Linked DNA regions of Homo sapiens: regions 2 and 3 are each linked to region 1. The links come from fine-mapping of genetic effects on gene expression. A gene starts in region 1. Each other region holds a variant in brackets. All regions are shown on one strand. Distances are from middle to middle. Region 1 holds the start of SNX30 (sorting nexin family member 30). Region 2 overlaps SNX30 (sorting nexin family member 30). Region 3 overlaps SNX30 (sorting nexin family member 30).

The links. PIP is the estimated chance that this variant, and not a neighbour inherited with it, causes the effect. A credible set is the group of variants that fine-mapping cannot tell apart.
Region 2: its variant is the best candidate, but not a certain one, in a credible set for the expression of SNX30 in monocytes (TOPMed, PIP 0.55).
Region 3: its variant is the best candidate, but not a certain one, in a credible set for the expression of SNX30 in monocytes (Fairfax 2014, PIP 0.66).

What each region holds. Positions count from the first base shown.
Region 1 is chr9:112,749,220-112,753,337 of GRCh38, reverse strand. It overlaps SNX30 (sorting nexin family member 30), which reads right to left and starts at 2,578. Exons shown (of 9, transcript NM_001012994.2): 1 at 2,181-2,578. The coding sequence starts at 2,336. SNX30-DT (SNX30 divergent transcript) reads left to right here and starts at 2,773. Exons shown (of 1, transcript NR_186503.1): 1 at 2,773-4,118. RefSeq lists enhancers at 890-1,809, 1,810-2,731 and a silencer at 2,001-2,820.
Region 2 is chr9:112,834,769-112,838,886 of GRCh38, reverse strand. SNX30 (sorting nexin family member 30) reads right to left here. Exons shown (of 9, transcript NM_001012994.2): 5 at 2,478-2,673; 6 at 190-389. Among named protein-coding and RNA genes, the nearest start is that of SLC46A2, 54 kb to the left of the region's middle. The variant G/A (reference allele first, on the strand shown) is at 2,219.
Region 3 is chr9:112,809,334-112,813,451 of GRCh38, reverse strand. The region is part of intron 2 of SNX30 (sorting nexin family member 30); the gene reads right to left. Among named protein-coding and RNA genes, the nearest start is that of SNX30, 61 kb to the right of the region's middle. RefSeq lists an enhancer at 1,992-2,902. The variant A/T (reference allele first, on the strand shown) is at 1,729.

The sequences.
Region 1 (4,118 bases):
ACCCTTTAAAGGAAGCCATCGGTAATTAGACTTGAGACTGACTTCTTCACCACTAACCAGATCTTGGTGGTACGGGGAATTTGTCTTCCAAGTGCTTATTAGTAAAATGCTCATACTTCTGAGTCAGGTATCATCCATGAGTGAATCGTTAGGTAAATATTTTAAATGGCTATCTGTAGTAGCCAGTCTCCAAGATGGCCCAATGATCCCCACCTCTTGGTATACACACCCTGATATTCACACCCTCTCCCCACATTGTACCAGTGTCAATCTGTGTGACCAACAGAATACAGCAGAGGCATGTCATTTCCAAGATAAGTTATACAAGACTGGCTAGAGTCTTGAGCTCTCTTGGATCACTTGCTCTGGGGGGAAAAACCAGTTGCCACATCAAACAGCCCTATGGAGAGTAACTAAGACCTGCCAACAGCCATGTGAGTGAGCTTAGAAGTGGATCCTCCCCTAATCCAGCCTTCAGATGACTGCAGCCCAAGCCAACAACTTGACTGCAACCTCAAGAAAGGCCTAATTCAGAACCACTCAGATTGTCCCACAGACACTATTTCCAGGTGATAAGTTTTGGGGTAATTTGCTACACAGCAATAGATAATTAATTCAGTGTCCCACACAGAACTGAGAAGGAAATGAGGTTTAACCCCCAGTTCCTACACTATTTTAAGACCAATTTTTGTCGATAAGAAAGCAAATTTATTCAGTTATTCAACATTTTTTGGAGACAGGGTCTCACTCTCTTGCCCAGGCTGGAGTACAGCGGTGCAATCATAGCTCACTGCAGCCTTGAACTCCCAGGCTCAAGCAATCCTCCCGCCTCAGCCTCCTGAGTAGCCTGGATTACAGGTGCATGCCACCATGCTGTGTGCGTATGTGGAAACGGGGTCTCGATATGTTGCCCAGGCTGGTCTCAAACTTTTGGTTCAGAGCAATCATCCCACTTCAGCCTCCCAAAGTGCTGGTATTACAGGTGTGAGCCACTGCACCTGGCCTCCATTAGCTTTTTTAATTTTCCTGTTCCTAATGCTTTGGAACTTCACTCCCTGCTTTCACAAACCCTCTGCAGAAGGTACATCAAGTCGCACTCTCTAGTGATTTTAAGTGCTCAGTGACCTTCTGACTGCAAGGAGGGCAGGTTATATTTTCTCATACTCCTTTTTCACTGTACCACATGGTGTCCCCTCTAACGGGAGAAGAAAGTTAGGTCCCCTGCTCCCATTAATATTGGGACAAGGGGGAATTCATTTAGTATTTTACTAGGGAGAGAAAATCTTGATCACAAGACCTGAGAACAATTCTAATTTCTGCAGTTAGTGACTAAGTGACGGCAGGAGCGGGGATACAATCACTGCTCAAGTCTCCTTCACAGCTGAAATGGCCATGGGGGTAGGGAGGAGGTCGTCCCTTACCCCTGCCTGGACTCTGCTGTCTCTCCAAGCAGCAGGAGGGTTGTGCTGCTCTAAGAAAATCTGGAGCCTCCCTCCGTACAAAGAAGGTCAAAGGGCGAGCTTTCTTTCCATCAACCACAAAACCAGCCTCTGCCAAACCTAAACAGAGTGGTAGGCCGTCGGAGGTGAATGGAGCCCCAGACAGAAAACCACAACGAGGCTCTCCTCCCGCCGCCGGCTGGGGTCTGAGTCAGGTGACTCCTCAGGACAAACAGCAAACCTAAACAAAGATCACTCCCCACATGACTGACTAGGGGGAAGAAGACTCTCGCTGTAAGCCCAGGGCTGCCCGGTCCCAGCACGGAAAGCCAGGAACTCCTGCTTTCTGTGCAGTCTCGGAAACTGGAGGAGCTACAAGTTATGCAGCAGCTCAGCCTGCAGGGATGCACCTGGAGGAACTCGGAACCCCATCCGAGGACACAGGCGCCCTGCCCTGAACACACGCCTCCCGCTCCAACACGCAGGCTGGACCCCTCCCCACCAGCTGTCACCGGTGCTTGCGACCAGTCACAGGCAGCGAAGCCTGTCCCTCTGCGGCTGCGACCCCGCGGAGGCGGCAGAGGAGACGCTTCGCCGAGGGCTCCGGGGCCAGGACACGCCCGTCCCCCGGGAAGGGGCGGCAGGGTGGGCGCGGCCCCAGGCCCACGAAGGCTCCGGATCCATCATCCCCCCCACGGGGAGCGAAATAAGCCTCCCACTCCCCGGCCCCAGGCGCCCCACCTTGTCACCGAAGCTGCGGGCCATCAGCAGGTCCGGGCTGGGCGTGCTGTCACCACCCACGGCCTCCTCGCTGCTGGAGCCGGCCAGCGGGTGCGGCATGTCGCGCAGGGAGTGGGGCCCCGTGGACGGCAGGGCCTTGGGGGGCCCGCCCGCCATGGCGCGCACCGCTCGGGACGCGCCGCCGCCGCTTCCTCCTGCTGCCCGCCGCGGCGAGCTCCCCGAGCACCCCGGGCCGAGCCCCGCTCGGCCGCCGCTTAACCCGAGGCCTTGCACCGGCCGTGCTGGGGGCCGCCGCCACCCGCCGGCTGGTCTCTGCCGGCGCTCAGACGCTCCGCTCCGCGCCGCGCGCCCCCGCTCCGCGCCCGAGCCCGCCGCGGGTCCGCTGGCAGCACGGCCGCGGCGCCCAGCCCACACAGCCACACCGCCCACCCGCTCCGGCCCCGCCCCCGAGGCGCCGCGGCCGCCCGGGAGGGGGCGGGGAGGGCGGGGAAGGGGCACGTGGGGAAGGAAGGACGGAGGGAGGGAGGGAGGAGGCGCGGCCCCGCCCCCGCCCGGCAGGAAGTGCGCCCTGGGCCTCTGCGGCTGTCCTCCCAGTGTCCAACGTTGCCTCGCGGAGGCCGCCGTGCGGAGCAAATGTCTAACGGAAATCAGAGGTGGAAAAGAGGTTGGAGGAGCCTGTTCCGTTCCACCCGCGTTTACTGATGCGCCCACCAGCAGCCACGCTTGGGGCTGGGGGCTTTGAGGACACGCACGTGAGTCAGGGTCTTCTGGCCTCTAAGGCACGCGCAGGAAGAACCCTAGATAGACGGAATTACGACCCATATCGGAAGAATAGCATAAAGGGCGACAAGGCTCAAATGAGCTAGAGGACATCGGGTGGGGAACCTGGAAGGGACTTCAAAGAGGCGGTGTGGGGAGTCTTCAGGCTCACTCTGAGGTCCCCATTGTGGCTTGCTTCTGCAGCTGAGCTGGATTTGTGTAAAGTCAAACCTCAGAACAGCGAGCATGAGTAGAGAGTCTCAAATGATATGCGACTCTTCAACTCACACTTTGGCCGAAGAGACTTTTGAAAGAACCATGAGGTTCAAGTTATTCTTCATGCATTTGTGCTTCCTTTCCAGGCCTTGGGCTGAGCTGATTCTCAGCTTTATTTGCTGGCGTGGTGCAAATAGTCAAGGTGTTACTTCCAGCCCTTTGGGGTGTAGGTTCACCTCCTTTTTCCACCTTACCTGTCCCTAGATCTTCTGTTTCCAAGGCCAAGTCTTTAAAGGGTTTTCAGTCCCTCTAGCAAAGTAATGGGTAGGGAGGCTCATCGTGAGGGACCACATTTTCCCTACCCATTCCAAACTCAAAGGTTTGCCTAGCCTTACCTGCTAAAAGGTGATGACAGATGTTGACTCTGGGATTCACTAAGGCCTCTACCACAGTTTTCTCTAGAAACAAATAGAAGAGAATGCAGAGGGTTGAAATCTACCCAAAATATCAGTCAGAGACTCTGAGCTTCAAAGACCTTCCCCTATTTCCCCCAATGTAATTTATATAGGGTTGGACCCTTAGTCCTCAAGCTATCATCTTTATCTCCTCCACATAAGCCTGCCTTGGCTGGGAAAAGTAGCATTCAAAGGGCACTGGGAACAATTTTAAATGCTGCATCTAAGGAATGCCAAGTTCTGGTCCTCTTGGAGTTGGATTAAAATTGTTAACACTTTCACATTCAAGGGCTGCTTACAACTACTACAGACCCTATTATCTGTTCTTCTGAATTAGCATGAAAATGAATAGCACAATATAACTAGAAATGAGTATTTCTAGAAATGAGTATATACATCTATAGATGTATAACATCGGTTTTTCTTATTGAATGGTGCTACTTATTTTAACAACCAGGCTGCCTTAAATATAATGGACATCCGTATGGATTAAGACTCTATACAAGCT
Region 2 (4,118 bases), 86 kb before region 1:
GTTTAATTCACGTACTTCGTTCACCATGTGTTCCATTTATATGTCCATGATGTCAGTCCACGTGTCTGATCCTGCCCACCCAGGAAGAAGGAAACTTATATCACATGCAAACAGGCAATAATCCATTACTTTCTGATAACTGCTATTACAAAGAAAGTATGCAAATACACAAGAAGCAAGCCAGCTTACCTTCATGGAGTCAGAGTATAAAATATATTCCCTGAGCACAGGTAGGAAGTCTTCTGTCATGTCATCTGTCAGCTCTTCTAAGGCTGTAGAGCAGTTCCCAATGCAAGCTGACACACCCTCCAGGGGTTCAGCCAGCTCACCCTCCAAGGCGCTCCATGTGGAGTACACAGGCCCGTATTCTCTCAGCTCCACAAGGTACTCTGAACAGGGAACAGAAACTAATTAAAATCTGGCTGGGTAGCAGTTGCTGCTATTACTGACTCAGTAATCACCACAGCCAAGAGCTCTCTACATGAACATGTGTTTCTTTGGCCATTCACTCACCTGATCCCACTCTTCTTTAAACACAACACTGTTTCTAGCACAACTGCTTAAAAACCTCTGACAGCTCATGTTACATCAATCCATTCCATCCCGTGATGGGAATGCCATCCCTCTGGATAATGGGCCTTATGGGGAAAAGCAGTAGCAGCCACATCCACCAAACATCTTCGAAAATAACCACTCGCTGGCCTGGTGGTGGCTCATACCTGTAATCCCAGCACTTTAGGAGGCCAAGGTGGGTGGATCACAAGGTCAGGAGATCGAGACCATCCTGCTAACACAGTGAAACCCCGTTTCTACTAAAAATACAAAAAAATTAGCCGGGTGTGGTGGCAGGCGCCTATAGTCCCAACTACTCAGGAGGCTGAGGCAGGAGAATTGCTTGAACCCAGGAGGCAGAGGTTGCAGTGAGCCAAGATCACTCCACTGCACTCTAGCCTGGGCAACAAAGCGAGACTCCGTCAAAAAAAAAAAAAAAAAAAAAAAGAAAAGAACCACTCGCCTACCCATAGTGTGAAGCAGTATTTTAACAGGCAATGGAGGCAGAGTTTCATATAGGTTTAGGGAGATGTTTTTAAAGGTTAAAAAATAAAATCAGGGGCCAGGCACGGTGGCTCACACCTGTAATCCCAGCACTTTGGGAGGCCGAGGTGGGTGGATCATGGGGTCAGGAGATCGAGACCATCCTGACTAACATGGTGAAACCCAATCTCTACTAAAAATACAAAAAATTAGCCAGGCGTGGTGGCGGGCACCTGTAGTCCCAGCTACTCAGGAGGCTGAGGCAGGAGAATGGCGTGAACCCGGGAGGCGGCGCTTGCAGTGAGCCGAGATGGTGCCACTGCACTCCAGCCTGGGCGACAGAGCAAGACTCTGTCTCAAAAAAAAAACCAAAAACCAAAAAACGAAAAACAAAAACAGTCACAATGGATAAACAATGGAATTTTAGGAAACATTTTGATACAAGAGATGTGGTCTTACACTGGCAGACTCACTCTATCACTCGGTGGCCACCTCAGCCCCTTGGATCCCATCAGAATTTACTCTGCAAGATCCTTAGGTGTGGATGGTATCCACAGCTATCTCCAAAACCTATGGGCCCCACATGGTATCATCAGTGGGTCAAGTAGAGGGAACAAGTACAAGAAATGAGAAAAAAAAAATGTTGATTTTTTTCCCCCGTAAAGAAAATCTGGCCCATCATTTGTCACCAAGAGTCTTGCCATTGTTGCAACAGAACACAGTCATCATGGCTTAGTGACCGATGAATGGCAACTGCTGGGGAATCCTCAACGTGCTTCCCATGCCAGTGCGATCATTTACACTGCTCACGTCTGTCCGCCCCATGCATATGTAAGGAGATAAAAGATCCCAACATTATGGGATGTGGCAAAGCAGGTGGCCCCGAGAGGGGTGGGAAGGAAGTGGAGGCAAAAACGAGGAAGGATCAATACAGGCCCTGGCAACTCCCCCATGCAGGAGTGGGTTTAAAATGAACCACGGTGGGGTGGGTGAGTCAATTACAAGTCTGAAGATTCATCAGGGTCATAACTTTGGCAAACACAGGTCTCCATGCTATCTTTCTGAACCATCTTTCTGCCAGAAAAGGTATCTAAGTTTGTTTACTAAATTATTGTTCCCTATGGATGAAGGGCAGTTGAGTCTATGTCTCCACTTTTAAAGCTAAAGTTAAGAGAGCATAAAA[G/A]AGGAAACACCTGGCGAATCAGCAGTGCTGGCCATGGGAAAAGCAAACACAAGGCTGACACAGCAGGACAAAGGACGGGGTGCAAAGTGACATTCCAGTCACAAGTAACTCCTCCCCTCCTTGTATTTCTTTGATAAGCAAAAGATGGCCTAGTTCTGTCACTCCAGCATTTTGCAGTTTGATTCTCTGTAGCACACATGAATGGCATTTCTGCCAATGTGGCTGCAGGGCATAATCGAGACCTCAACAGACAGCTCACCTATTTCTTCTTTGATGATCCGCTGGGCTATTCGATCAATGGTTCCCAGTTTGAGTGCAAATGTATCTAAGTAGTCACCTATGGCAGCAAACTCAAGCGGCCGAGTCCTCAGCTTGTAGCCGCCAGTGACGTGCTTGACTGACTCGCCCATTCTGGTCAGCAATGCTATCCCTTGCTTCTTGTAGGCGTTCAGGTCCTGAGGATGATATGTGAATAAGCTCAAAGCACTCACTCACTCACATGGGCAGGACTAAATAAAACAGCTTCTAAAAGCAGCTTCAGTTTGGAAATGGAGAACTCGGGAAACAAGGAGCTGAGTTAGAGGCTCTAATCACATTCACAGGAGGAACCTGGCCTGGACGTCATAACCACCAGACTCAGGCTCCTGTAGGTTGACACTTAAATCCCTTTCAGCAGAGCTGAACGCCAATCCTTAATCAAATTCACTCACCTGAGCACACTGCCCTTTAAACACAATGCTGTTTCTAACATAATTTTTTTTAAGTATCTGTTTCTCCCATACAAAGTACCCTATATTGTCTTTACAAGCAAAACTGAAGAGCAGAGGTTCCGAGATCCATCACTCATTTATTTATACCCCAACTAAAGCCATATAAGGGGAGTAAAGGGTGGAAAGCAGGAAACAGTGGCAGAAAAACATTGCTAGAAAACTCAGGCCTAGGATGGATGCTGTAAACAGCAAAACATTTTAACCCTGGATTTCTTGAAGGCAAAACTGGAAATATGTTGAGTTTCATAACCCATTGTATCTAAATATAAAGCTTATTAGCCAGGCTAGGCATGGTGGCTCATGCCTGTAATCTCAGTACTGTGGGAGGCTGAGGTGGGCAGATCACTTGAGGTCAGGAGTTCAAGACCAGCCTGGTCAACATGGTGAAACCCTGTCTCTACTAAAAATACAAAAAAAAAAAAAAAATTAGTTGGGCATGGTGGCATGCACCTGTAGTCCCAGCTACTCAGGAGGCTGAGGCACGAGAATCATTTGAACCTGGAAGGCAGAGGTTGCAATGAATTGAGATCGTGCCACTTCACTCCAGCCTGGGCAAAAAAGAAAAGCATATTAGCCTGCCTGATAAAACAAGCTTCCTCCTATCATCAAACACTAAGAGGAATCTATACAATCTTCAGGTTGTCCTGTGTCACCTACTGAAAGGGTAGCTTACAAAATGGTTTTACAGAAGGTACAGGTGTCTGTTCCTCATATCCACCCTCAATACAAACAGAATGTTAATCCCCAGACCTAGAAGGGTATAACTAGAGGGAGATAAAGGAACCCAGAACAAGGACACAGCTTTCTGGTGACGTGGCCTGATGCAGAGGATAGAGCAGAGAATGTGGAATGTGCGGCTAACATGGCCCAACAGCCCCTCCGCATTTGATGTACAATTTCAGGCTGAGGTCTCTATAGTATCTGAGTGTAGGCACCTCGTGAATTCACTTCCTTCTTCGCTTCCTTCTTTAGGCCTTCATTTTTGCTCTTGATCCAGCCTTTCCTATTGAGGTAGGTGTGTGTGTGTGTGTGTGTGTGTGTGTGTGTGTGTGTGTTTGTGTGTGTGTGTGTTTAATCCACGGTTCCTGGCTCATAACCTCCACAGACCTTGTTCCAGTCTTTTCACTATA
Region 3 (4,118 bases), 60 kb before region 1:
GCTGGAAGGCAGTGGCACAATCATAGCTCACTGTAGCCTCAAACTCCTGGGCTCAGGCAATCCTCCCACCTCAGCCTCCCAAGTACCTGGACTACAGGCACATGCCACCATATCTGGCTGATTTTTGGTGGTTTTTTTGTTTGTTTTTTTTGTAGAGATAGGCGTCTCACTATGTTGCCCAGGCTGGTCTCTAACTCCTGACCTTAAGCAATCCTCTGTCTCAGCCTTCCAAAGTGATGGGATCACAGGCATGAGCCACCACAACCAGGGTATAAGACATTGTTGTTTTGGGGGGTTTTTTTTGAGATGGAGTCTCACTCTGTCGACCAGGCTGGAGTATAGTGGCATGATCTCGGCTCACTGCAACCTCCACACCTCCCAGGTTCAGGTGATTCTCCTGCCTTAGCCTCCCAAGTAGCTGGGACTACAGGCGTGCGCCACCACACCCAGATAATTTTTGTATTTTTAGTAGAGACGGGGTTTCACCATGTTGACCAGGCTGGTCTCAAATTCCTGACCTCAAGTGATCCACCCACCTCAGCTTCCCAAAGTGCTGGGATTATAGGCATGAGGCACCATGCCCGGCCTGTTGTTTTAAGGGAAAATGGGAGGATACAAAATTAATTGTACATAAGGATTTCATTTACATTAATATCTGGATATTAAAAAATTTAGAAGAAAAATTTAAAGCTAATAATGAGAACTGTCCTCTTTATATTCACTCTTATTTCCAAATTTTACACCATTCTCATACACTATTTTTATAGTCTCACACACACACAATGCTCATTTTTTAAAAGCTCCTTTAAGGACATTGGGAACTTAATACAGCAAGAAAAACCTGCTTGATGCTTTGGAAAGCAATAACGTAAGAAGTTATCATGAAAGGGATGCTCAAGGTCCACTACGGTGGCTCACACCTGTAATCCCAGCACTTTGGGAGGCCAAGGTGGGCAGATCACTTGGTCAAGAGTTCAAGACCAGCCTGGCCAACATGGTGAAACCCCATCTCTACTAAAAACACAAAAATTAGCCGGGTGCGGTGGTCCATGCCTGTAGTCCCAGCTACTCGGGAGGCTGAGGCAGGAGAATTGCTTGAATCTGGGAGGCGGAGGTTGCAGTGAGCCGAGATCGCATCACTACACTCCAGCCTGGGTGACACAGGATGACTCCGTCTCAAAAAATAAATAAATAAATAAATGGATGCTTGCACACTCTCTGACCCAGTATTTATTTTACTTATTTTTACCACAATTTGTTCTAGAAAAGATATAGTGATAGGTAAAATACAATCAAATGACATAAATTAGAAGTAGGTGAAAAGGAAAGAAAAAACAAGGACAGAGGGAAAAAGTAGAGCCAGGAATGAGGCTAGCAAAACACACTCACAATGAAACACTGCACACCAGCTGAAACTGGGCCAGAGACACTACTTGGAATTTCTGGAGAGAAACACATTTATAGGACTCACAGTATTCATAAAACAGGCAGACCAGTAAAACTCCAAAGATAAGTTTGTAGTAAATTTTTCCTCCATGAAATTCAGGATCTAACTTAGGAAAATTTAAAAATATACATTTATCTCTATTTTTGAATACCTATAGTAAACAATTTTTTAAAAGAACGAAAAGCATACACACACAATTCCATAATCAGAGACAACCACTACATCATTTTGTTCTATGTCCTTCCACATCGTGTGTCCACAATGCAGAATGTCCAAAGATC[A/T]CAAGGTCACGGGCGCACATGTACAGTCAGGTCTAAGAACAGGTGACCAAGCACAAGAATCATAGTCAAGAAGGCTCATTTTTGCTATGCTAGAAGTGTAACACCATCACTCCACGTGGATACGTCCCTGGTCATCTCCAGACATCCCTGGAAATTTTTTTTTCCTTCAGAAGTTCAACATTTTAGAAGACCCAGCACAGAATGACAGTCTAATCGGTCATCCAGCAGGGCACTCCACCTACTGGGCCCCACTCACCCTACCACATAAGGTCTCCCCTTATGCCCCAAGAGCTGACATGCCCAACAACTGTGGCCCAAGGCCGTTCCGAAGAACGTCCATTTGATCCAAAATTTACAATTGAGTCACTCCAGAGAGACGTGGTCTTTATCACAAGTGCCATCTGTCCAGGCCACAGCTGGGTCTTAAGAATTCTAGGCAACCCCCATCTCCCAACAAAGGGATCTCTTCCCTTATCAAACAAAAACCAGCTAGTCCCATTCTGCCTCAAAACCCCACTGCCCTGAGAATGACAAGTAGAGGCTTCCAGCCTTTCATCCTCACGCTCCTCTGCCTTCCTTTCTTCCAACATGGACTTCCACTTATCTCGTTCCTCTCAGATCTTTCTGCCAAGCTCTCTGGAAGACCCACGCCATAGTTAATAAAGTCTTGTCGTTCTTCTGCCCATTCAAATTCTGAAACCTGGCTCTCCCTGAGAATCGGGCCTCCCTGCCATCGGTCCCTCTGTGAGCTGCTCGCATTCCACAAGCCTCGCCCAGCCCCCAAGGCCAGGAGCTGCTGCTGACATGCTCCTCGTTCCACACAGCTCCTGACCACCACTCCCCAACCGCCCTGTGAAAACCCTTCTGAGGCTCGTGCCATCCAGTGACATACATCCTGTATCTCTCCCGCACAGCTGTCATCCACTGACAGCTCTGCCATTTCTCCTGATGCCCTGAAGATTCAAGCAGCTGGCTCTCAGGCTTCCTTTCCAAGCCCTTCCACAACCTAAGTGCCCTCGAGATCCAGGTGGCTCATACATACAACACCAGCCTCTAAGCAAGCAATGTTTCCTTCCATTCCACAGCCTCTCCCAGACCGTCACCAGGGAGAAACCCACACATCTCCCTCTAAACGGCATCCCCTATATTTCAGGCTCTTCCTCTTCCCAACATCCTTGGTTTCTCAGCCTCTTGGGACCTAAAGTTCCTTGACATTCCATCCATTCATGTCTTTACTTCCTTCCTTCTTTACTCAGCATCCATTCCATGGCCCAGAACTTCAATCACTTACAGCAATATCTAAATGTTGTTCCCTCCCCACTGCCCATTCACCCAACTCGTAAAAACCCACTTGCTCTACCAGACCTGGGTGTGTGAGCACACTGCTAGAGGAGAAACAAAATCAAGCAAACACACGGACAGACACGATACATTCTACAACCAGACCCTCCAACATTGCCAGGCACCCTTTTCATACTCCCTTACGTCAGCTCACTCCCACACTGTCCAAATCATTTATCAAAAAGCCCATAAAAGTTGTGAAAATTTCTAATCCCCACTTCAAACCACCCCCACCCTTAGAAGGCTTCATCATCTATTCAGAGAGAAAACTCCAGATATAAGCAAAGAACCCCTTAACTTCCTGCCACAAAACAAACTTCCCTTCCTTCTCCACAAACAATGGAAAAAGTACACCGCCCCTTCGGTGGCAATTCTAGCTTCCTCCGCCTTCCCAGGAGCCTCCATCCTACTCTCCAATCTTCAACCTAATGCCTTCTTCTCTACCAATACTGCGCAACTGGCAGTTAAACAAGTCTCTTTCATCCTTAAAAACAGCAGCAGTCCAAAAAAAAAAGCCTCCCTCTCCCTCAAACCCATGCCCACTTCTGACCACTGCTCTCTATGCTTGTTTTCATTGCCAGAATTCTAACACTCTTCTCTCTCTTACCCCTCGCTCACTCTAACCCACTTGGGTTCTGCATCACTACACCAATGAAACTGCTCACACCACAACCAGCAATAACTGTGTCATTAAACTAACGTCCACTTTGCATTGTACATAATTCAGCCTCGGAGCAGCATTTAGACTCTGTTGACCACTGAGGCATTTAGAAAGAGGAACTAGTTGGGGTGTTATGACTCTTTTTCTTTTTTTTTTTACACACCACTGGTAATGAGGCTAAACACAAGAAAATAATAAACCCTGAAGGGAATTGAAGGCTCGCCTCTGTTTCCTCACCCTCAAGCCTACTTCTGTATTGTCAGTTTCAACCACACAGGCCATGCTACTGGACCACAGTGCTGGGTATCGGGGCCATCCCTCTCTTGAAAATCATGTCTTTTGGGCCAGGCGCAGTGGCTCACGCCTGTAATCCCAGCACTTTGGGAAA